Homo sapiens: one gene and its partners. The protein of the gene in region 5 purifies or fractionates together with the protein of the main gene of each other region. This does not show direct contact. Each region holds a gene or a part of one and is shown on either strand. Other genes may lie near its edges. The genes, in order: SMCHD1, KDM4D, RNMT, RBBP6, TRPC4AP, KLC1 and VTI1A.

Region 1 (3,500 bases), on a different chromosome or scaffold from region 5:
AATTAATAATCTGAGATTACATGGTCAACAAGCAGTGAAACTGGGATTGGAATTTAGGTCAATTTGATTCCAAAGCTTATGTATACATATACATATATATGTGTGTGTGTATATATATGTATATGTATATATACATATATATACACACATACACACATATATACACATATATACGTGTATACGCATATATACATATATACACATATATACACATATATATACACACACATATATATATTTTTTACACTACTCCACACTATTTATTAGAACCATCACTTTTGTCCTTAGGGGAAGAGACAAAATAATATACTAAAGTTTTTGTTAAAATGTAAATTAAACCAATAAATGTTTGTAGTGTCAGGCAGTATTATGGGTGATCCTAAACTGTTACTTATTTATTTATTTTTTTTGAGACGGAGTCTCGCTCTGTTGCCCGGGCTGGAGTGCAGTGGTGCCATCTTGGCTTACTGCAACCTCTGCCACCCAGGTTCAAGTGATTCTCCTGCCTCGGCCTCTTGAGTAGCTGGGATTACAGGTGCCTGCCACCACGCCTGGCTAATTTTAATACTTTTAGTAGAGATGGGGTTTTGCCATGTTGGCCAGGCTGATCTTGAACTCCTGACCTCAGGTGGTCCACCTGCCTTGGCCTCCCAAAGTGCTGGGAATACAGGCATGAGCCACCACGCCCAGCTCTAAATTGTTATTTGAATAAAGTTCACCTCATGGAAAAGGAGAGGGAAGAAATGGAAAGGACAAATCTGCAAGAAGCCCTTAGACCTCTGATAAGCAGCTGTTGACTCACCTGAGCCCTTGTGGCCTTGCAGAATCAACGATTAGAAGATGACTCATTTGGTTAGTTCTAAAATATGCCCAGATGTTAAGTCCCATGTGTGCATATCCCCCCACCACCAATTTGAAGAAATTGTCTACATTTTCCTTTGTGTGGCTCCAATGTTTTTTGTTGTGCGGCTATTCTAGGTGTTTTGTATTTTAATATAAGATGTGCTCATCAATTTCTACAATAAACTTGAGATTTTGAAAAAAAAAAAAAAAAAAAGCAGAAAACTATGGCTTAGCAAGTGCCATAGTAAGGTAACGAAATATAATGGAGCCACATTAAAAGCTGACTAGTTTGCAGAGTTTCAGAGCAGTGCTAATTAAGCTGTGTGCTTTCTGACTAATCCATGGATGAAAATTACCTGTTGTTCAGAGATAGTGAAAAAATAATTTTAAAAATAAAATTAACTGATCATTTTGGTAGGTAATCATTTTATGCACTGCAAGTCAGTTAGTCCTTAAATATTTAAGAGAAGTTGGGGACGGCATAGTGGCTTACACCTGTAATCCCAACACTTCGGGAGGCCAAGGCGGGCGGATCACCTGAGGTCAGGAGTTAGAGATCAGCTTGGCCAACATGGTGAAACCCCGTCTCTACTAAAAATACAAATATTAGCTGGATCTGGTGGCGGGTGCCTGTAATCCCAGCTACTCGAGAGGCTGAGGCAGGGAGAATTACTTGAACCCGGGAGTCGGAAGTTGCAGCGAGCTGAGAACGCACCGCTGCACTCTAGCCTGGGTGGCAGAGCGAGACTCTTGTCTCAAAAAACAAACAAACAATAATAAAATAAAATACTTAGAAAAATTGTGAATTCAAGAAATAATTTTTATAGATGAAGCAGGGAAAACAAAAAGATAGTTTATGTGTCTTAATTAAATAATAATAAATTTATAGATTAAAAATCCATGGTTTTTTTTTTTTTTTTTTTGATGGGAGTTTCACTCTTGTCACCCAGGCTGGAGTGCAGTGGCGCAATCTTGGCTCACTGCAACCTCCGCCTCCCAAGTTCCAGCGATTCTCCTGCTTCAGCCTTCCAAATAGCTGGGATTACAGGCACCAGCCGTCATGCCCGGCTAATTTTTGTATTTTTAGTAGAGATGGGATTTTACCATGTTGGCCAGGGTGGTCTGGAACTCCTGACCTCAGGTGATCGATCTACCCACCTCGGCCTCCAAAAGTGCTGGGATTACAGGCATGCGCCACCATGCCCCCTGGAAAATCCATGGATATTTAATATGGATGAAAAATCCATGGATATTTCATATGGATTTTTGATGTGGATTAAAAACCATGGATTTTTAATATGGATTAATTTTAAAGTTTATTGCAGCACTATTTACAATAGTAAAGACGTGGGACCAACACAAATGCCTATTGATGATCAACTGGATAAAGATAATGTGGCACATATACACCATGGAATACTATGCAGCCATAAAAAAGAATGAGATCATGTCCTTTGCAGGGACGTGGATGAAGCTGGAAGCCATCATTCTCAGCAAACTAACACAGGAACAGAAAACCAAACACTGCATGTTCTCACTCATAAGTGGGAGTTGAACAATGAGAACACATGAACATAGGGCGGGGAACATCACACACAGGGACCTGTTGTAGGGTAAGAGGCAAGGAGAGGGAGAGAATTAGGACAAATACCTAATGCATGTGGGGCTTAAATCCTAGATGACAGGTTGATAGGTGTGGCAAACCACCATGGCACATGTATATCTATGTAACAAACCTGCATGTTCTGCACATGTATCCAGGAACTTAAAAAAAAAAAAAGATAGTTTGTGTGTCTTAATTGAATAATAGTAGATTTATAGATTAAAAATCTATGGGTTTTTAATATGGATTAGAAATCTGTGGGTTTTTAATATGGATTAGAAATCTGTGGGTTTTTAATATGGATTAGAAATCTGTGGGTTTTTAATATGGATTAAAAAACATCTGTGGGTTTTTAATATGGATTAAACATCTGTGGGTTTTTAATATGGATTAAACATCTGGGTTTTTAATATGGATTAAACATCTGTGGGTTTTTAATATGGGTTAAAAATCAAAAGAAAATGAACTATTTGCTCCAGTGCAGGAAAATACAGGCAATACTGGATACAATTAGATGGTCAGGAGCGATAACCCGGTTGCCATTGTTTGAAGAAGAGAATAAGGTGCTAGCATTCCTATCCGTAGATAATTTGACAGCTAGGAAATAGGGGGAGTCTTCTATGTAGTTAGTGAAGGCTAAATGAACTATTATATGCAGTTATCGTAGAAGAGTACTCAAAAAAATCTGTAAAAAATAAAGAAAGGCCGGGCGCGGTGGCTCACGCCTGTAATCCCAGCACTTTGGGAGGCCGAGGCGGGTGGATCATGAGGTCAGGAGATCGAGACCATCCTGGCTAACAAGGTGAAACCCCCGTCTCTACTAAAAAAATACAAAAAATTAGCCGGGCGCGGTGGCAGGCGCCTGTAGTCCCAGCTACTCGGGAGGCTGAGGCAGGAGAATGGCGTGAACCCGGGAAGCGGAGCTTGCAGTGAGCCGAGATTGCGCCACTGCAGTCCGCAGTCCGGCCTGGGCGACAGAGCGAGACTCCGTCTCAAAAAAAAAAAAATAAAATAAATAAATAAATAAATAAAGAAAGAAAGAAAGAAAGAAAGA
Region 2 (3,500 bases), on a different chromosome or scaffold from region 5:
TTTACTGGTGAAGTCAAGTAATTTTTCACTGATTTATTTCTTTTGTGGGTTTCGGTTTTCTGAATTACCAGTTATACCTTTTGCCGATTTTTTCCAGTTAAATTGCTTTCTTTTTCTAGTGATTTTTAAAAGTTCTTTAAATGTTTGGGATAATTTTATGTCTATTGTATTGTTGCAAATAACTTATCTCAGCACACCACCTCCATTTACTGTTTATGTTTTTTTGATATTTGAAAAAATTAAATGTAGTCAAATTTATTGATCTTTTCCATTATGATTTGTGCCTTTGTGTACTATTTAAGTAATCCATGTATTCTTTGGGGGTCAAAAAGATCATATTTTCTTGTCATTGTTTTCTTTGCTTTTCACTTTTATTTGTTTTGCCTATTTAGAATACTGTGTGTTATTGTAAGAAACAGAACTTTTTTTTTTTTTTAAGAAATCCAGTTGTTTGCCACCATTTTCCCCATTCAGTTGGAATCCTTTTCTCACATATGCTAAGTTACAATGTAAGGATAGATGTCTTTCTAAACTCTTCATCTGGTCCATTTATTTATTTGTACATTTCTATGCCAATGTTAGATTGTTTTAATTACTAAAGCTTTATACTTAGGATAATTGGTAAGGCAAGTCTCCATGTACTTATTCAACTTTTTTCAAAATTATCTTGGGTATATTTATAGAGTAAAACTTCAGTATTCATTTTAGAATAAATCTGTCAGGTTCTGTCAAATACTGTTAATTTAAATTGGGAATGCATTGAAATTAAAGGAAAATTAGAGGTGTATTTTCATAGCTCCTGCATTGATCATTCCCACCAATTAACTGGTATATTTATACATTTATTCAGATCTTGTTGCATGTATATCAATGAAGCTTCAGATTTGCATCAAAAAGATAATGAATCTGTTTTCTTAGATAAAACCTTAGGAACTTTATAATTTTTTGAGTGTACTGTACATGGAAATTTTTTTCTATTAAGTTTTCTTATTATTTATTGATCTTACATCCCTTTTCAAACCTTGTACCTCTTATTTCCTATTAGTACTATTAGCTTGGCCATTAATTCTAGAATTTTCCACGTAGATAATATTTTCTAGGAAAAAATCATAAAAATTATATCTCTTCTTTTTTTAATAGTCATGTCTCTTTTTTTTTTTTTTTTAGAAATAGGGAAGTCTTAAGTAACTAGATATGATCTCTAGCAAAATGCTGAATGTTGACTGAGTTGGTAGAAATTCTATACTCATCTAAGATTTTAATAAGAGTGGCTCTAAACTTTGACATTAATTATATCCTATCATTTACCATCTAAGCTGAGACACTTTTGAGAATAACAGAGACCCAAGGATGACAGGCATAAACCTGGACCCTACTGATCAAGCAGTTAAAAAGCAATAGTCATATAAAATTCAGTTCTGCCGAGCTGCAGAATATATATTTTTCCAAGTTCTATAAAAAATTTACAAAATTAACCATAACTGTGGCCATAAAACAAGCTTTAACAAATGTCAAACGGTTGAGAACAGTCAGAATATGTTATTTGACCACAAACAATGAAGTTAGTAATATCAAAATGATAACTAAAAAATTCCCAAATTTATAAAATAAAAAGTATATTTCTAAATAAATTTTTAATGAGAAAATAAAAAATGGAAATTAGAAAATATTTTGAACTAAATGAAAATACTACATTTCAAATCTTGTAGGATGCAGGTAAATAGCATTAAAAGGGAAATTTATAAATTTAAATAAATATTTAAGAAAAGGAAAAAGGTTAAAAAAACTAAATGAGCTAAGCACCCATCTGAGGAAGTCAGAAAAAAGTAACAGCAAAGAAAGAAAAAGAAGAGAAATAATAAGAGACCAGAAACTGATGAAATAAAAAGCCAATATAAAATATGATGAACAAAACCAAAAGTTGGGCTTTTTTAAAAAAGTCTAATAAAATTTAAAAGACTGGTGAAAATGAGGAAGAACAAAAATAGAAGGCACAAATAACCAATATCAACAAAGATAAAGAAGTCATCACTACAGATGCTGCAGACATAAAAGAGACAACAAAGAAGTATAAACAACTTTATGCCAATACAGTTTAACATTTCAATGAAGTAAATACATTTTTAGAAAAATATAACAGTGATACTGACAAAAGAATAAACAGAACAATAAATATATCCATAACCCTCAAGGACACTGACGCAGTAGGTAAAACTCTTCCCAGAAAATATACTCGAGGCCCAGATGGCTACACCAAGAAATTTTAGTCAACATTCAAGAAAGATATTCCAATCTTAGATAAATTTTCTCAGAGAATAGAAAAAGAAAGAATACTTCCCAATTCATTTTATGGTACGAATCCCCAACAAGGATACTATGAGAAAAGAAAATAGGTCAATCTCGCTTATGAACATAGATGGAAAAATCCTAACTGAAATCTGAGCAAATTGATTCCAGCAATATATACATCATGACCTAGATGGGTTTATTCCAGTAATGAAAGGATGAAACTTTAAAAAATAATAGTGTAATAGCACATATTAACAAACTAAAGAGAATCTCATTAGATGCAGAGAAAGTATTTGATAAAATTCATCAATTCATCATTCTTTCAGCAAATTAAAAATAGTAGGCAAAAATCTTAATGAAGTGCATCTATCCAAAACCTTCAGCCAAATCATACTTAATAATGAAAGTTATACGTTTTCCCTTGCAGATCAGGAAAAAGACAAGGATGCTTGCTATCAGCATTTTTATTCAACATTATCTTGGAAGTCCTAACCAACATAAGAAGGCAAGGAAAAAAGAAGGAAAACAGAAAAGGAAGAAACAAAGCTGTCACTATTGGCAGATGACATGATTGTACATGTGACAAAATCTGAAAGATCTCTGAATAGACCCTTTGAATTAATAAGAGAGCTTAGCAAGTTCTCTGAATTTAAAATAGCTACATATAAAAATCAATGATATTTCTACACACCAGCAACAATGAGACAACCAAAATTTAAGGAAGACGCCATTTATAATAGCATTAAGCATTAAGTAACAAGACTAATGCTAACAAAAATTTGCAAAATTTCTATGAAGACAACAATATGAATGTACTTAGAGAAGCATATTAATATAAACTAAAGACATCCTAAACAAATGGAAAAATATAACCTGTTAATAGATTTGAAGACTTAGTATTGTAAAAATGTCATTACATTTTTAAGAATGTTTTCTTAATCTGTAAATTAAATATTATCACAATTAAAATTCCAAAAGTATTTTTGTGGAACTTGACAATTGGCTCCTGAATTTTATAGTAAAGTCCAAAGGGCCAAGAATAGCAAAGCCACTCTTATAAAAGTGGGACAAGGTAAGAATATCTGCTCCATCGGATTTCAAGGCCCCTTCTCCAGCATGCCACGCACAAAAATGAATTTCATGTGCAGCTATGAAACCTTTAGAAGATAATACCTGAGAATATCATTATGACTTCCCAAGTAGGGACATTC
Region 3 (3,500 bases), on a different chromosome or scaffold from region 5:
AAGGGGTTCAACACATCAGTGGAGGAAGTAGCTGCAGACGGGATGGCAACAACAAGAGAACCAGAATTAGAAGTGGAGCCTGCAGATGTGACTGAATTGCTGCAATCTCATGATCAAACTTGAACAAATGAAGAGCTGCTTCTTATGGATGAGCTTGAGATAGAATCTACTTCTGGTAAACACATTGGGAACATTGTTGAAATGACAAGGATTTCGAATATTAATATTACAAAAACTTAGTTGATAAAGACCAGTAGGGTTTCAGAGGAGTGACTCCAATTTAGAAATAAGTTCTACAGTGGGTAAAACGCTATCAAACAGCACTGCATGCTACAGAGAAATCTTCTGTGAAAGAATGGTCAATCAATGAGGCAAACTTCATTGTCTTAACTGCCACAGCCACACCAATCTTCGGCAACCACCATCCATCAAGAGTATTTCCGCCATGGAGGAAAGACCCTTCACCAAGCAGAAAAGATTCAGATTCACTGAAGGTTCAGATGATCATCAGCATTTTTTTACCAATGAAGTATTTTTAAATTAAGGTATGTACATGGTTTTCAGACACAACACTACTACACACTTAACAGACTACAGTAAACATAACTTTTATATGCACTGGGAAACCAAAAAATCTGAGTGACTTGCTTTATTGTGGTGGTCTAGAACTGAACTTGCAGTATCTCCAAGGTATGCCTGTATATCTTCTAATAAAATACCAATAGATTTTAGGGCAAGAAAATACCTGCAAAGGTGACAAATCCTGCAAACATCACAAGGATGTTTGGGGCATGTGCTAGGATACTCAACAGTGAGTCAAGATCAAGTCCATCTAAGCTGGAGGCCTCACTCCTTGAGATGACTTCTTTTGAAGGGAGGGTAGATGAACACAGCTAACTGCCTGATGGCCTCCCAAGACTCCAGCTTCTTGCTCTTCCAACCCAACTTGTACAGGAACACCATAGCAGTTTTTCCAAAATACTACTTTGGTCACCTTATTTACCGGTTTCCAATTTCTTTTAGTTGAAATGAAATGTGGCTAGTAGCACAGCGATAGGACAGAAAACAGGCAGGGTGTTCATCAATTCTGTGGTTCTTGCCAGAAGGTAAGGAGACAAAGCAGTCCCCAGCACTTGCAACACATCAGCGTGCACAGCATGTCAGCACTCACAGCTGGCCAGTATCACTCATGCTGTCCCCCACTCTGTGTGACCTTTGTGCAGCCCAGCCCTGCCAAATCCCACCCCCCACACACCCATAGCAATTGCAAACAACCCCTCAGTCCTGTCCTGTCCTCATTTAGGGTCATTTGAAACCACTAACATGCTAGAGTCTGATTTTCAATACATAATAGCAACTTTCTTTCTAACTTGAAACTCCTAAAAAGTCCCACTTATTGTATAAAATGCCTTCTATGCAGGCATTTCAATTGGGATTTAAAAAAATCAAATCGTGAACCACTTCCACTTCCAGAAATAAATCAATAGCAATTCTCTCCTTTCTCATTTAAAGCCATCTTCTAGAGGAGCAGCAGCTCTGGTGATAGCTTAATGATCAGACCAGTAGAAGTCTAAAATGTAGCCTGGGCCTTTTAGACTCGTGATGGCATGCAAAATACGCTCAACCCACGAAGCCCTCTAGCTTAGAACAGAGCAATTCATCAAACAGCCAAACAATCCTGGGGTGCTACACCCGAGGTGCAATTTGGCCACTGCTCTCTTCGCATGTCCAGCCCATCTCTTCCAATTGTCTGGGGCCATCTAATTTTTCATTTGTACATGATGACTAAAGTCCACACTTAATAATATAAAAATACAGTTCTAAGCCACAGCCAGTACCGCCATCATGATGACTCGTGATCAAAATTTACACTCTACTTTGGGACCAGCAGGATGTCTAAGACAGGCAACCAGTCTCCACTGCAGGGAAAAAGTAATAAAATCCATAGTTTATGCACATGCTCACCAGTGTGTCAAGCATGATCGTATGTGTATAACATCCTCCAGTCCGATTTCTAGTAATAGTACCAATGTTCAAAGACAAATAGCCTCAAAATACTGGTCTTGCTTGACTCCTTTCCTCTTCTTCTCTATCCAACTCAGGAAGTCTTACTAGATTTTCCTTTTGCCAGGCTTCCATGAAACCATAGTTAAAATGACAGATCACTTAGGTAAGCTAACCACAGGTTAGCTCTGTGATCTTAGCTAAGTTGTTAGTCTTCTCATCTGTGAAAGGAGATATAATACTCTACTCATAAAGTCATTGTGAGGATTAAATGAGTTACAACATGTGAGTTATTACAAGGATTAAAAACGTTACACGCACCTGCACATGTTCAACACTCAGTAATATCAATATTACTACATCCCAGATGTCATTAGTTTAGTTTTCATTAAGCTCTCTTTCACCTTTGTGCCCCACTACAGTATCATTAGCACTTAAAAATTTGCCTAGTAGTGTTTATTTGTGCCTGTTCCTTCCATTACAGTGTAGACTTCTAGAAGGTAGAGATTTAACATCTTTATTTTACTTTACCTTTCACAGAACTTCACGTAAATCAATAATGTTTATCAAATGGATTGTCCTTAATGACCACTTGTGCCTCAACATCACCAACAACCATGTAAGGGGATTCCTACAGTAACAATGAGGCTCTGCAACCTGACTTCCTCAACACCCACTGCTGAAGAACCACAGGCCTTCACAGATTTGCTGTGCTTCTGGCTTCTCTTCTGAACACAGGAACCTCACTTCAGAATATCTTTGCACCACATTTGTCCCCTATCATGCACACCTCTAACACATCCTGCTCATGGATGTTTCATTGAATGTTCTAGTATTATTATGCCTTCACTGTCACATCAGAGTGGCCAAATAAAAAAAAGACATGCAAGTATTCTATAAGCCAAAAATTCCAGTAGAAATCTGAGGTAAACACTTCAAATGGAGATGGCTACTTAGTAACAAATAGGCAATGAGAATGTTTACACATGCTCACTCAAGTTTATGCTGAGGAAGACCCTGTGTACAGTGTATCTTCTCTTGGCACTACACAGCTGTGCAAGAAAGGAGGATTAGACATATGTAGAGATATACGTATTTGTGTGTGTGTGTAAACACAAACACAACCTAAAATGTCAGAAAAACTCAAAGTTTTCAGATTTTTTTTTGAGAGTCTCGCTGTGTTGCCCAGACTGGAGTGCAGTGATGTAATCACAGCTCACTGCAGCCTTGACTTCTCAGGCTCAAGGAATCCTCCCACCTCAGCCTCCTGAGTAGCTGGACTACAGGCACATGCCACCATGACTGGCTAATTTTTTTGTATTTTTGGTAGAGACAAGCATTTGCCATGTTGCCCAGACCGGTCTCAACTCCTGGGCTCGAGGAATCTGTCTGTCTCGGCATCCCAAAATACTGAGAGTACTGGTGTGAGCCACAGTGCCCAGCCTTTTTTCAGGTTTTAATGATCACTTTGAAACAGGACTTTTGAAATTATCAGT
Region 4 (3,500 bases), on a different chromosome or scaffold from region 5:
ATGGATAAAACTGAAGAAAATCCTTCTCCCAACAAAGTTCCACACCCACCCCCTACACTCAGCTACCTGGTGTAATCCACCAGAGTTGAGCTGGATCCTTCAGTTCCAGTCACTTTTCGTCTGACCTTTCCTTTGACTTTTTCTTGTTTAACTTTGCTAGATGTTGACTCCAATTTTTCAGAGGGTTCTTTTGTGTTTGATATATTTTCTGTACTTCCAATTTTCTTCCCAGTTTCTCTGTTGAGTTTGATTTTTTTGGCTGGCGCACTTAAAGAAATTTTGTCCTTTTCAGGGGTCCTATCCATTTTTTCAGTATCAGGTTCCATTTTGCGCTTTGGTGATGGTTTCACTATTTCAGTCACTTCTAGTTTCGAGATTTTCATTGAAGAAGACTCAAAATCTTTATCTACGCCTTTTTCTTCAGTTTTTCTTTTTCTTTTTTCTCCCTTATTATCAAGTGGTTTGTTTTTCTCATTAGGCTTCTTGGCCTTTTCTTCCTTAGTTGTTAGCTTTTCTGATTTGACATCTTTGGAATAGTCCTTCTTCACTTTTTCCTCTTTGACTGGTTTTGTTTCTTGGTGTTCTTTTGCTGATTTAGAGTGAGCTTTTCTGGGGGTTCCAGTGATTTTTTCATCCTTCTGAGAGGAAGATGATGATTTAGTATTGTCAGTCTTCGGAGTCTCCTCTTTGGCTTTTTTAATTGGAGGTTCAGATCGAGGAGATCTCTCACGTTCTCCATCTACTTTTTCTTGGGGTCCTTTAGCAGGTTTTACAATATTTTCTTTTTTGGACACAGCAGATCCATCATTCTTCCGTTTGGTTTTATCACCCTTTGCTTTTGGTTTATCCCTTTCTCTCTTGTCTTTTTCAGACACTGATTTAAAAGTGATTGATTCTGCATCCATTGGTTCATCTCTAACAGGTGTGGCATCATCTCTACTTGGGAGAACAAACAATGAGTCTGTTTTATTTTCTTCAACACCTGTAGGTTCTCTTGATTTCCTAGAAGTCTCTAATAACTCTGGGTTCAGAAAACCCTCACTTTCCTCCCCTTTTCTTCTTTTTCTGTGTTTCTTATGCTTATTTCCTTTACCATCTCCTGGAGCGTTTTCACTCTCCTTCTCTTTTGACTTTGTATTATCCTTCTGATTGTGACCATCTCTTGCTGAAAGCTTTTCTGGATAGTTGCTACCTATGTTTCGACTTCTATGACTTTGCCCACCAACATAGTCTTCTCTGCGGCCTCTTGTGAAGGGAGAATTCCTGATGTTAAGTGGCAAAAATCTCTCTGGAGAAAAGTTCTCTCTATTTGCTGAGGGTCTAGGCTGTGCTCCAGCAGCATAACCTTTATAATATTTTTCATACCACTCTCTATATTTTCTCTCCCATTCTCGGTAGCGTTCTTTTTCAAATGGGTCTCTAAAGTCAACACTTCTCCCATAATATGCTTTCATGTCATATGGTGGTGGAACTTCTCTGTATCTATTAAAATATTCACGTTCTGTTTCCCCTTGAGGTACATTACGTTTATTAGGAGACTGTCCCCTAAACGCTTGAGGAGATCTTGATCGTGAATGATAGCGTCTGTAAGGGGGTGACCTTGACCTAGATCGATGATATCCATGAGATCTAGACCGTGAACGGTAATTGCGGCTCTTGCCTCTGCCTCTTCTGGGGTATGGAGGTGACCGTGAATAGGAACGAGAATGTGAGCGGCTGAATGATCGAGAATAAGAGCGTGAACGTGTTGAACCAGATCTTGATTTAGAATAAGTATATGAACTTCTTGAATACGAAGAACCACTATAGGGAGATTTAGACCTAAAAACAAAACAAAACAATAGTTGATAGTTGAGAAATACATACAAAATAAAACACAGACTCTCAGATTCTAGCATTCTTTCCTCACGGTTTCATCTATCTTTATATCAAATTTCATCTTAGATGATTAAAGAGGCACAGTGACCTCTACTGGAATGGAATAAAGTACACAAATCGGAGCAATCACTTGTTACAAAACAAAAGTGAAGTCTTAACAATTAGAGTGAAGTGCATTAATGTACCGTGAGTTATATGAGCTAACTAACATTAAACAAAATGTCAATTAATTTTAAATTTCACTTCCTATCTGAATATTGAAGTAGGAGTCTGTTTTTTGTCCTATACTGGCCAACAGCCTAGTTTTAAAAGAAACCACATTTCAAGTGTAAGGCTAAAAAATAAAGTCTTTTAAACAAACTTCCAGGGAATTTTTATAATTCACTTTTTCTATCAATAAAGCGATCTGTATTCTACTACTACTTCATAATTACGCAGGTTAATGTTCCAGCAAGAAGCTGTAGCCTTATGGTAAAAGGGTCCTGGGAACTGTTTTTTGGCTATTCCCCTATTTCTTTCCTTCCAAAAACATTTCCCAATTATTTGATACTATGAATAACTTTAAGGGACAAGGGCAATTTAATCCCCACAACTGTTAGTTCTACACAATAAAATTTACACTGAGACATTATTTCAATGAACAGATATTGGGAAATAAGCTACATCTTCACTTCTATACACCTAGACCGAATCAGAAAAATTCCTAAGTGCAATGTTCTTTATATCCATAGCTAATCCCTGGATATTCAAAGTCCCGTTTGTAATTCTGTTGTGAAGGCTTGCAAAACACTAACCTGGAAAATGAGCGCCTACGCTCCTTTTGAATCTTTTTGTATTCCATCAATTCCTTAGCAAAATCATTTGTAAACTCATCTAGCTTGGACTTTTTCTTTTCCCTAGTAAAATAAAGTTAAAGAGTGAAAGTTAACAAAAACCATTTAAGAAAACTAACAAGACAAATGTAATTAGATCATGAATGAAATGAATGAAATTGCCATTAGTTTTCCACTTTAAAACTATAAACTAGGAATCCCTGAGAAGTTGCTTGTATGGCTTTGGTTTAAATTTTAGGTGAATTTCTCATACTAACTGGAAACACTGGAAAACGTTTCCAGACACCTATTTAATGTTATTATCAGAAAATGAAAAAAGTGTATAATAATTTCAAATTAGAATACATACTCTTCTTTTAGTCGTCGCTGCTCTCTATAGAATTCTTCCCTGGACAAAGGTGGTGCTTGTGTTGTTGGGATGGTATTTGAATGAGCTGTCTGCACTCCTGATGATACCCAAGGTGTTGATAAATTGGCAGGAGCTGGAGGAAACCCTGGAGGAGGGACACTATACCCAGCGGGTGGTGGCTGGCCAGGAGGAAACTGAGGAGAAAACTGTGGAGGAGGAACACCCGGAGGGAGAGGAAGTGTATGGGGAGGAGGCGGATACAAAGGAGGTGGTGGAACAGGTACAAAGACTGGAGTTGCTGGTAGTGACGGGCCTTGAGTCCTCTGTGATCTTTCGCTGTGGTGTCGCCCACGGTTTATACTTCTGGAAAAATAAATTCCAAGATATTACTTCTTCAAACTAAAGTCATCTGAGACAAGTAAGCTTATCTCTTCTATCCA
Region 5 (3,500 bases):
GTGGCGCAATCTCGGTTCACTGCATCCTCCGTCTCCCGGATTCAAGCAATTCTGCCTCAGCCTCCTGAGTAGCTGGGATTACAGTCGTGTGCCACCACACCTGGCTACTTTTTGTATTTTTAGTAGAGATGGGGTTTCACCATGTCGGTCAGGCTGGTCTCCAACTCCTGACGTCATGATCCCCCTGCCTTGTCCTCCCAAAGTGCTGGGATTACAGGTGTGAGCCACTGCGCCTAGCCAAAATTTTTTCATTGTAGTAAACAAATATATAATATAGGCCAGGTACATTGGCTCATGTGTGTAATCCCAGCACTTTGGGAGACCAAGATGGGATGATCACCTGAGCCAGTTTGAGTCAAGCCTGGGCAGTGTGGTGGAGCCCCAGCTCTACTACAAAAAAAAAAAAAAAAAACATTAACCAGGTGTGGAAATGCATGCCTGTAGTCCCAGCTGCTCAGGAACCCGAGGTGGGAAGATCGCTTGAGCCTGGCAAGTCAAGGCTGCAGTGAGCCATGATCACACCATTACACTGCAGCCTGGGCAACAGAATGAGACCCTGCCTCAAACTATATACATATATAAATATATATATGTAAACATAAAATTTACCATCTTAACCATTTATAAGTGTATAGGTCAGGCCCAGTGTGGTGGCTTACACCTGTAATCCCAACACTTTGGGAAGCTGAGGTGAGCGGATTGTTTGAGCCCAGGAGTTTGAGACCAGCCTGGGCAACATGGTGAAACCCTGTATCTTAAAAAAAAAAGGTGTATAGTTAAGTAATGTGAAGTATATTCCCATTGTTGTGAAACAGATTTCCAGAACTTTTTCATCTTGCAAATCTGAAACTACCATTGAACAACTTCCCATTTCTCCCTCCCAGTCCTTGGTAACCATTCTTCTCCTTTCTGTTTTTGTGAGTTTGACTACTTTAGATAACCCCAGTATAGTAATACAGTATTTGTCTTTTTGTGACTGGCTTATTTTACTTAACATAATGTCCTCAAGGATCATCTGTGGTATAGCATGTGATGGAATTTCCTTGGAAAAAAAAATCAGATTTTAAAGTAAGGTGGACCTGAATTGAATCCTAGCAGGGTGACCAAGATTAAGTTATTTAACCTCTCTTAACTTCAGTTTCCTTATTTCTAAAGAGGTGATGATAACATCTATCCCATAAAGTTGTTAGGAGGATTAAGTGAAATAATATGTTTTAAAAGCGTAGCCAGTGTGGCATATAGGAATAGTTGTTTAGTAAATAGTTGCTCTCAGCTAGTAGTTAATTAGACTGGGCTTCCTGAAGAGACTGTGTCTTATTTTTCATTGTATCTGCAGAGCCTGAAACCTTGCCAGCCATTTGATATTCAGGAAATTGCTTAAATTGAAATACTGTGTCCTCAGTCTAATTTCTGTCTGTACTTGCCAAGCAATCTCATGGCTTTAAAGAGTTCCAGAGTCAGATTACCTAGGTTTGAAACCTAGCTCTGGTATTTACTTACTATGTGTCTTTAGGCAAGTTATTTAATCTGTTTATGCCTCAGTTTATTTATTTGTAAAGTAAGTATCATAGGACCTGACCTTCCAAGGTTGTGGTGAGGACCAAGTGAGTTGTACATATAAAGCACTTAAAATAGTGACTGAAACATACTTTCTCAGCTATAAGTACATAGCTTACTGCTATAAAGATTAGCTTGTATTGTTATTAATAACTGCTCTATACGCTGACGGATCCTAAGTTTCTGTTTCCATTCGTGTTTCTCCTTTTAGCTCTGGATGGGTAGGTATATCCAATTGCCTTCTAGCATTTCCACTTTGATGTCTAATGGGCATCTCAAACTTAGTATGTCGAAAGCCAAAATCCTCTCCCTTTTCCATCAGACCTGATCTTCTCCATCTCCCTAAATGGGGCATAAGGGAAGCCTGAGTCATGACTACTGGCCACATAATTTGTAATGGGTCAATTCTACTTGGATTTTAGTTTGCTTTATTTTCTTCCCTTCGTTTTGTTCTGCCCTCTGTCAAGGCAATAAAATATGCTGGGGTGATACTTTGGAGTTTACTGAGCCTTTTCATATTCATCAGCACATTTGATGCTTAATGCAAATCAGATCTTATAAATCCTTTGCTTAAAACTCTCCAGCCTCATCTCATTGCAGTTGATAGAATCAATTCTGGATTCCTTACCATGGGCGTACAAGGCCCCAAATGATCAGTACGAGTTGAAGGAAAGGATAGACTGAGTAAACGCTGGGCTCTAGGATAGTGCAGCTCACATTACAGGTCATGACCCGCCATCCCTGGATGCCCTTCAGTTTGGCAATCTGGTGACAGACTGGGTTGTGGGATGCTGTTATATTTCCCACATGGCAGTCGTTGCTTCCTTTATGATTATTGGCATATCTAAATGCCCCTGAGTGTTCCTTACTTTATATTTTTTCTTTAGATTCACTGACTTTTTTTTTTTTTTTGAGATGGAGTCTCGCTCTGTTGCCCAGGCTGGAGGGCAATGGTGCAATCTCAGCTCACTGCAAGCTCCGCCTCCCAGGTTCATGCCATTCTCCTGCCTCAGCCTCCCGAGTAGCTGGGACTACAGGTGCCCGCCACCACGCCTGGCTAATTTTTTTTTTTTTTTTGTATTTTTAGTAGAGACGGGGTTTCACCGTGTTAGCCAGGATGGTCTCGATCTCCTGACCTCATGATCCGCCCACCTCGGCCTCCCAAGGTGCTGGGATTACAGGTGTGAGCCACTGCGCCTGGCTGACTTCTTTTTTTTGTGAGATGGAGTCTCGTGCTGTTGCCCAGGCTGGAGTGCAGTGCACAGTCTCGGCTCACTGCAACCTCCGCTTCCCGGGTTCAAGCGATTCCCCTGCCTCAGCCTCCTGAGTAGCTGGGACTATAGGCATGTGCCACCATGCCCGGCTACTTTTTGTATTTTTAGTAAAGACAGGGTTTCACCATGCTGGCTAGGCTGGTCTCAAACTCTTGATCTCTTGATCCACCCACCTCAGCCTCCCAAAGTGCTGGGATTACAGATGTGAGTCGCCGTGCCCAGCCAGATTCACTAACTTTTAAAAAAAATTTCATTAGGCACTACTTGTTTTAGCCTCATTCTAACCATTAGTATTTATGAAACCTAGGCATTTAAGTCAAACAAATCTTACCTGGCTTTTCAAAGGTAATTTGATACTGAAAAACTCCTGATTAGGATAAAGTCTTATTCATATATATATACACACACACACACACACACACACACACACACACACACACACACACACACATATATACACACACACACATATATATACACATATATATATACACACACATACACACACACACACACACACACACACACACACACACACACACACATATGCCATTCATTTCAATGGGAAGTTTTCGTATTCACAAGCCCTTAAATTTGCTCCTAATTTTACTGAATCATACCCCATTAAAGGACACAAAAGTATTCAGTGGTTAACATGTATTGTCAGAA
Region 6 (3,417 bases), on a different chromosome or scaffold from region 5:
GACGCAGAAGAAAAGATGGGACGTTTGGGAGTAAACCCCTGACCAAAGGCAAGTAAGGAAATTCCACCCTGTGCAGGGGGAGCGGCTGCCATGTCCAGCCCACCCTAGACATGGCTGTGGCCTGGCAGAGCAGCTCCTGGGTGGGCCTTCCCCCACTTCTCTTTTTTTTTTTTAAGACAGTCTCGCTCTGTCGCCCAGGCTGGAGTACAGTGGTGCAATCTCAGCTCACTGCAAGCTCCACCTCCCGGGTTCACGCCATTCTCTTGCCTTAGCCTCCAGAGTAGGTGGGACTACAGGCGCCCACCAACACGCCCAGCTAATTCTTTGTATCTTTAATAGAGACGGGGTTTCACCATGTTAGCCAGGATGGTCTCGATCTCCTGACCTGGTGATCCGCCCACCTCGGCCTCCCAAAGTGCTGGGATTACAGGCGTGAGCCACCGCGCCCGCCAGCCTTCCCCCACTTCTAAGAGGTCTTATAAAAACTTTCAAGTAAAGCATAAGGCATATAAACTTTTAATTTAAAAAAATGTACAATAAAATACGTTATCGCACACAACGTGAGGAAGTTACACATGGGAAGGGAGCCGTGGGCCCAGCTCATGCCCCAGGTCTCCTGGGAGAGACCACGCCGCACCAGGGCACCAGCTTAGGCCCAGCCCCAGCCCCAAGGTCACGCCAGCCGTGTGGTTATTAGTATCATGTCCTATGCACACAGACGCAGGAGAAATGAGTGAGCGCTGCGGCTCCCGGCCAGGGGCCCTCCCTGCCGCCCTGGCTGTCCCGGGCCAGCTCCGGGCCACACTCGGCAGTCCCATCCTGGAGCGGGGCCAGGTCGGGGTCACTGCAAGAGAAGATAGAAGGTCAGGGCTGGGCCGCCAAAACCTGACAGTGTTACTAAGTTCTGTTCTGGAAACAGCTCTCTGGGGAACCCCCACCCCAAGTCTGCCTAGAGAAGAGGGTGTTGCTGGTTGTGAGCCTCCCTGGGGCCGAGGGGTCATGGGGGACTGGTGCGTCTTTGGTCTCTGCTCCCTGGAGCACCAAAGGCCTGCGTCTGGCACGGGGGAAGCCAGGGGTGTGGACACAGAGCCTTCTCTTGCATAAGCAGAGCCTGGTGCCATTCCCACCCCCCCACTCTGTGGCCCTTGGGCTTGCATGAGGATGGGGACCCTGAGCCAAGCCCCTCTTGGAGGCCCAGCCTGGCAGCTAGCAGCAGTCACCACTTGCCCATCCCCAGCTCCCCCCAGTCCCTGCATGTGCAAAGTCCCTCCCTGGCCCAGCTGCCTGCTTCCTGGGGCTGCAGGCCGTGGGACTCACGTTAGCGGTGGCGTCTTCCAGGCCACTGCTGCTGCTGTCGTTTTCCACAAAAAGAGGCTCGGCCAGAGACGCCCTGGAGATGAAGCACAGACGAGTTTCACTCAGGGCGTGCAGGCGGCCCTCAGGCGTCTTCAGAGCTCCGGGCGTGACACCAGCGTGTGGCTGCAGACCTTGGACTTGAGGGACAGCCTAGGGGCCCCTTAGCAGCCTCCATCTGGCCAGAGCTGCTGGCAAGGCCCGTGGGGCCTGAACTACACTGCTTGGTGCCAGGAGCAGCTGTGTCACCCTCCCCCATCACCATGGCTCACCAAGCTGTGCGGTCAGAGGCCAGGCCAGCCATGCCAATGGCTCTGGCACCCACAGGCCACGGCAGCACCCAGAGGGAGGCCGAGGACACCTGCCTTCACTGGGGGGGTCCTCCCCTGGAAGCTCTCCTGGGAGCTGGTGGGCACAGGGCTGTTTCCACCCCTTGGCCAGGCCAGGCCAGCTCAGAGCACAGGGCTAAGGCCTGGATGCACGGGAGGCACTGGCCTTGAGGGTGTCTCAACCTACAGCCCCATCCTGACCCCCAGGTGGTCTCCCAGAGTGCCCCACGCCTTGGCAGAGGCAGGCCAGGCCTGACTCGCCTGAGTAACGCCTGAAGGGCATCAGGCCCCTGCCTTGCTGAGCGTCTGAAGAGGTCATGGCCACCACGGGCTGGCTTTGGTGGCACTGTGGCCAGGTTTGGGTGGTCTGAGTACCTGGTGCGGGGCCACTGAAGGAGGGGGCTGGTTGCTGCTGACCTGTGAGGGGGAGAGGGTGAAACCATGGCAGAAGGAGAGCAGACCCCCGCAAGGACTCAGGAGCCTGCGCAAAGGACACCTCTACAGAGGACGGTGTTGGCACAGCCAAGGGGTGACTGCCTGGGGGGGCCAGAGGAAGGACATGGGGCCAAGGGAACCAGTTGTGTGAGCCTGAAGCTTCTATAGTTGGGGCCTCTTTGAGAAAAATACAGAATTGGGCTCAGAGTATGGGGACTACAGAGTATGGGCACTGTGAGCCCCAGGTGGGTAGGAAGGTTTTCAGACGGTCGAGTGACAGTCCAAACGGGGTCTGGTCACCTGGGGCGGGGACTTGCTGACCAGCATAGACAATGACAGCTGTCCCCACAGGACACCTTGTTGGAGTGTGTGAATAAGAAGGTCCCCGTACTGCTGTCTCGGGGCATGGCTCGCCTGGTGGTCATCGACTCGGTGGCAGCCCCATTCCGCTGTGAATTTGACAGCCAGGCCTCCGCCCCCAGGGCCAGGCATCTGCAGTCCCTGGGGGCCACGCTGCGTGAGCTGAGCAGTGCCTTCCAGAGCCCTGTGCTGTGCATCAACCAGGTGAGCACCAAGGCAGGGTTGCACCCCTGAGCTCGTATTTTTAGCCAGGATGCGGAAGCAGAGCCGGTCTGGAGGTGGGGCGGGTGGCAGTGAGGTGGCCTCCGGCTCCTGCGGGTAGCAGCCTGTGCCTAACCATCGAGAAGACCCTCAGCCGTTGCAGCTGACCTGGACTGTGCTCTTCCAGGTGACAGAGGCCATGGAGGAGCAGGGCGCAGCACACGGGCCGCTGGGGTGAGTGCAGCCATGTGGTGTGTGCACCTCTGTGCAGGTGCCAGGGGCACAGCTGGGCCGAAGTGGGCGGGGCCACCAAGCCTGAGCGCCAGCTTGCCTGCTTCCTGTTTCTCAGGTTCTGGGACGAACGTGTTTCCCCAGCCCTTGGCATAACCTGGGCTAACCAGCTCCTGGTGAGACTGCTGGCTGACCGGCTCCGCGAGGAAGAGGCTGCCCTCGGCTGCCCAGCCCGGACCCTGCGGGTGCTCTCTGCCCCCCACCTGCCCCCCTCCTCCTGTTCCTACACGATCAGTGCCGAAGGGGTGCGAGGGACACCTGGGACCCAGTCCCACTGACACGGTGGCGGCTGCACAACAGCCCTGCCTGAGAAGCCCCGACACACGGGGCTCGGGCCTTTAAAACGCGTCTGCCTGGGCCGTGGCACAGCTGGGAGCCTGGTTCAGACACAGCTCTTCCAGGGCAGCGGCTCCACTTTCTCATCCGAAGATGGTGGCCACAGACTGAC
Region 7 (2,515 bases), on a different chromosome or scaffold from region 5:
TGAAAAGCAAACCTGTTCTCTTCATCAAAAATGCTAACCACCTGTGCCCGTGGATCAATATCACCTGGATGTAGTGCTTGATATTTTTCCCAACTCAGAAGAAAACCATTATGGTTTAGAGAGGAAATGCAGAATGGCAGAATCCACCAGAGAAATTGCACTTATCGAAACAGGCCAAGGCCTGCATGTGTTCGGATAAATCATTTAGTATTGTGTAAATAAAGCTGCAGCCTTTACTTCGGAGGGATGGTGTGGGATTTTGGCCGAGGGAAGCAGGACAGAGAAGGAGCAGGAAGCTATGCTAATTTTCCTGTCAGCTTAAGGGATCCGTCTCAGCAAGAATCTTGTATTCTGATAACGGAATGCTGTACGTGCTGACCACATCTAAGAACCATTAAAAAGCAAGGAAACAAACAAACAACCCTTTTCTCATTCCGACACACGAATAGTCATCGAGTATTACACCAGCCCCTCTGGTGGCTTCCTTCAAAACTGTTGATCTTAGCTAAAGTGTATAACCAGTTACCAGCTGCACTTCGCACGGCCATCCCGTCCACAATGCAGCAGACTCTTCCCAAGGCCACCTAGCAAGCAAGGTTGATCGGATCATCTAAACTGGCCGCCTCCTGAATATTTCACTGAATCCTGGCGTTCATGTTGAAGCAGACAAAATGAGAAAGGAGGAGGGCATTGCTCACCTCTCAATAGCTTTTTTCGTTCAAGTTCTATGTCTTTATCAGCTCTTGCCTGTGATTTTACCCCAATTCAACCTTGGGAGTGGGAAGAATATGAACAGATAACCCTTGGCCTAACAGCTCCATCAAACCTCCTTGAGAGCAACTACCTAGGCCAGGCTAGTGAGTGCTTTGTGAGGAAGCTGGTCAGAAGGTTCCCTCAACTCCTTCCTGGTCCTCCTGGACACTGCAGAAAAGACTTAGGGGATCCCCAGCAGAGGCCAATTGCTCTCCTTCCTTCCCTGCCCCACCAGGAAAGGAATAACGTCCACAGACTTGAAGCAGATAGTGAAGTAGATCTGTGAGAGGTTCTAGGTACTTAGTGTGTAGACTTTGACGAATATTTCTCAAGTTGGGAGCCCTTGTTAAAAATGATGTTTAAGGGAGTGGTTGGGGGGAAGATGAAGGCATGGAGGAGGAAGAAGAGAAGGAAGCCCTTGCCATATAAAATTCATGCAGACTAAACAGTTTCCCTGACAGAATAAATAAAGTGGATGCTACCCCACTCCAGAATCAAAAGCAATTTAATTAAAGTCTCTTAAGTTGTAAAGAGTTTTAAATGATCCGTGTTGAAGGCGAATGCCTGCAAATGCAGTGGGTCTGACGTCAGCTGCCGGGCCTGGGCTGGGAGGCCATTTGCTATTCTGTTTAAGGCAGGCTGGATTGTCTTATTTTGGAACCAGCTTGGTGGGGGGTTTGCTTTGCTACTGCTTCTGAGCCCTGAGCTTCAAAGGCTGAAATTAATGGTGAACAAAATTGTGCGGCTCTGGCCATCCCATGCGGGGCAAGCCCATTGAGGGTTATCATTAAGTAAAGAAATAAAGAGGGGGAAAAAAGCCTGCCTGTTCCAAAAACCTCATCAGATAATGACCTCAGTGATTGGGTTTTCATTACCAAACAGCATCCAGAGATTATCAACCCATAGAAGAAGGGAGGGGAAAAAAAAGAAAGAAAGGAAAAGCAACTGTCTTTCTCTCCCTCTCTTTCTCCTTTTTTTTTGCACATCTTTTCTTTAAAACTGTCAGATCATTTCAGTATTTCAAATCCGAGGAAAACAGCCTGCCTGCTGCTGTATTTGAAGTTGTAATGGTGTCAAAAAGTCACGACTGACTGACAGCCGTCAGTCCCAGAGGGGCTCATTAAATCATAAAAACTTGACAAGGAAATAATTGCGCATTGCCAGCAACTTGGCGCCTGTTTAGACGTTTTTATTTTCTTTCATTATTAGTCCCCACCATTACGTTCATTAACAAATTGCATTAAACAACTGTTAAGGGCTAATGATTTGTTTATCGCTTTTTTTTATTATTATTATTTAAACATTAGCTGTGTCATGTGGTACCCCAAGCAGCCTCTTGCCATCATCTGACTGAATATTTTTCCACTCCGAGCTCTGGGTACTGTTGGAATATGAAATAGATTATTCATTACTCTCCTCTTTGCCACTGATTTGGTTTCATGTAGCGTCTTCCACAGAGAAAGATGAAAACTTGTCAAAAATAGGTTATATCTTATTCGAAGGGGCAACAATAGCAGCAGGTACAGGCACACTTTAATATTTAATTAAGGTTGATGTTAACCCCTTTAAATGACTTTAGCTGTAAGTTGTATTCAAATGCAGAAGAGAAAAATAATTGTTCTTAATTTGCAACCTGTTCAGCAGGCGTTCTTCATGGAGTGAGCTGGAAATTTAGGGCAGAATTTTTAAATAATGAAATTTCCCATCGTAAATATTAATAGCAGTTTGTCTACGTAGTGGAGAATTAACTAGGAGTGATGAT

Evidence for each region.
Region 1: the proteins of TRPC4AP (region 5) and SMCHD1 purify together in Homo sapiens (co-immunoprecipitation; 3 studies listed by BioGRID and IntAct, with this or other methods). This does not show direct contact.
Region 2: the proteins of TRPC4AP (region 5) and KDM4D purify together in Homo sapiens (affinity purification with mass spectrometry; 2 studies listed by BioGRID and IntAct, with this or other methods). This does not show direct contact.
Region 3: the proteins of TRPC4AP (region 5) and RNMT purify together in Homo sapiens (affinity purification with mass spectrometry; 2 studies listed by BioGRID and IntAct, with this or other methods). This does not show direct contact.
Region 4: the proteins of TRPC4AP (region 5) and RBBP6 purify together in Homo sapiens (co-immunoprecipitation; 3 studies listed by BioGRID and IntAct, with this or other methods). This does not show direct contact.
Region 6: the proteins of TRPC4AP (region 5) and KLC1 purify together in Homo sapiens (affinity purification with mass spectrometry; 2 studies listed by BioGRID and IntAct, with this or other methods). This does not show direct contact.
Region 7: the proteins of TRPC4AP (region 5) and VTI1A purify together in Homo sapiens (co-immunoprecipitation; 2 studies listed by BioGRID and IntAct, with this or other methods). This does not show direct contact.

Annotation. Positions count from the first base shown.
Region 1 is NC_000018.10:2,658,726-2,662,225, forward strand, and holds part of SMCHD1 (structural maintenance of chromosomes flexible hinge domain-containing protein 1), read left to right. Parts: intron 1-3,500. UniProt on the Homo sapiens protein: Non-canonical member of the structural maintenance of chromosomes (SMC) protein family that plays a key role in epigenetic silencing by regulating chromatin architecture.
Region 2 is NC_000011.10:94,980,209-94,983,708, reverse strand, and holds part of KDM4D (lysine-specific demethylase 4D), read right to left. Parts: intron 1-3,500. UniProt on the Homo sapiens protein: Histone demethylase that specifically demethylates 'Lys-9' of histone H3, thereby playing a central role in histone code. Does not demethylate histone H3 'Lys-4', H3 'Lys-27', H3 'Lys-36' nor H4 'Lys-20'.
Region 3 is NC_000018.10:13,754,173-13,757,672, reverse strand, and holds part of RNMT (mRNA cap guanine-N(7) methyltransferase), read right to left. Parts: intron 460-3,500; coding exon of another isoform or gene 314-459; exon of another isoform or gene 1-313. UniProt on the Homo sapiens protein: Catalytic subunit of the mRNA-capping methyltransferase RNMT:RAMAC complex that methylates the N7 position of the added guanosine to the 5'-cap structure of mRNAs. Binds RNA containing 5'-terminal GpppC.
Region 4 is NC_000016.10:24,567,066-24,570,565, reverse strand, and holds part of RBBP6 (E3 ubiquitin-protein ligase RBBP6), read right to left. Parts: intron 3,424-3,500; coding exon 3,061-3,423; intron 2,775-3,060; coding exon 2,673-2,774; intron 1,822-2,672; coding exon 67-1,821; intron 1-66. UniProt on the Homo sapiens protein: E3 ubiquitin-protein ligase which promotes ubiquitination of YBX1, leading to its degradation by the proteasome.
Region 5 is NC_000020.11:35,086,308-35,089,807, reverse strand, and holds part of TRPC4AP (short transient receptor potential channel 4-associated protein), read left to right. Parts: intron 1-3,500. UniProt on the Homo sapiens protein: Substrate-recognition component of a DCX (DDB1-CUL4-X-box) E3 ubiquitin-protein ligase complex required for cell cycle control.
Region 6 is NC_000014.9:103,698,628-103,702,044, reverse strand, and holds the end of KLC1 (kinesin light chain 1), read right to left. Parts: exon of another isoform or gene 3,248-3,417; coding exon of another isoform or gene 3,028-3,247; intron 2,913-3,027; coding exon of another isoform or gene 2,866-2,912; intron 2,682-2,865; coding exon of another isoform or gene 2,469-2,681; intron 1,391-2,468; coding exon 1,319-1,390; coding exon of another isoform or gene 1,318-1,318; intron 845-1,317; coding exon of another isoform or gene 842-844; 3' UTR 501-841; downstream 1-500. Other genes in the region: DNA repair protein XRCC3, read left to right, coding at 2,469-2,681, 2,866-2,912, 3,028-3,247. UniProt on the Homo sapiens protein: Kinesin is a microtubule-associated force-producing protein that may play a role in organelle transport. The light chain may function in coupling of cargo to the heavy chain or in the modulation of its ATPase activity.
Region 7 is NC_000010.11:112,816,730-112,819,244, forward strand, and holds the end of VTI1A (vesicle transport through interaction with t-SNAREs homolog 1A), read left to right. Parts: 3' UTR 1-2,015; downstream 2,016-2,515. UniProt on the Homo sapiens protein: V-SNARE that mediates vesicle transport pathways through interactions with t-SNAREs on the target membrane. These interactions are proposed to mediate aspects of the specificity of vesicle trafficking and to promote fusion of the lipid bilayers.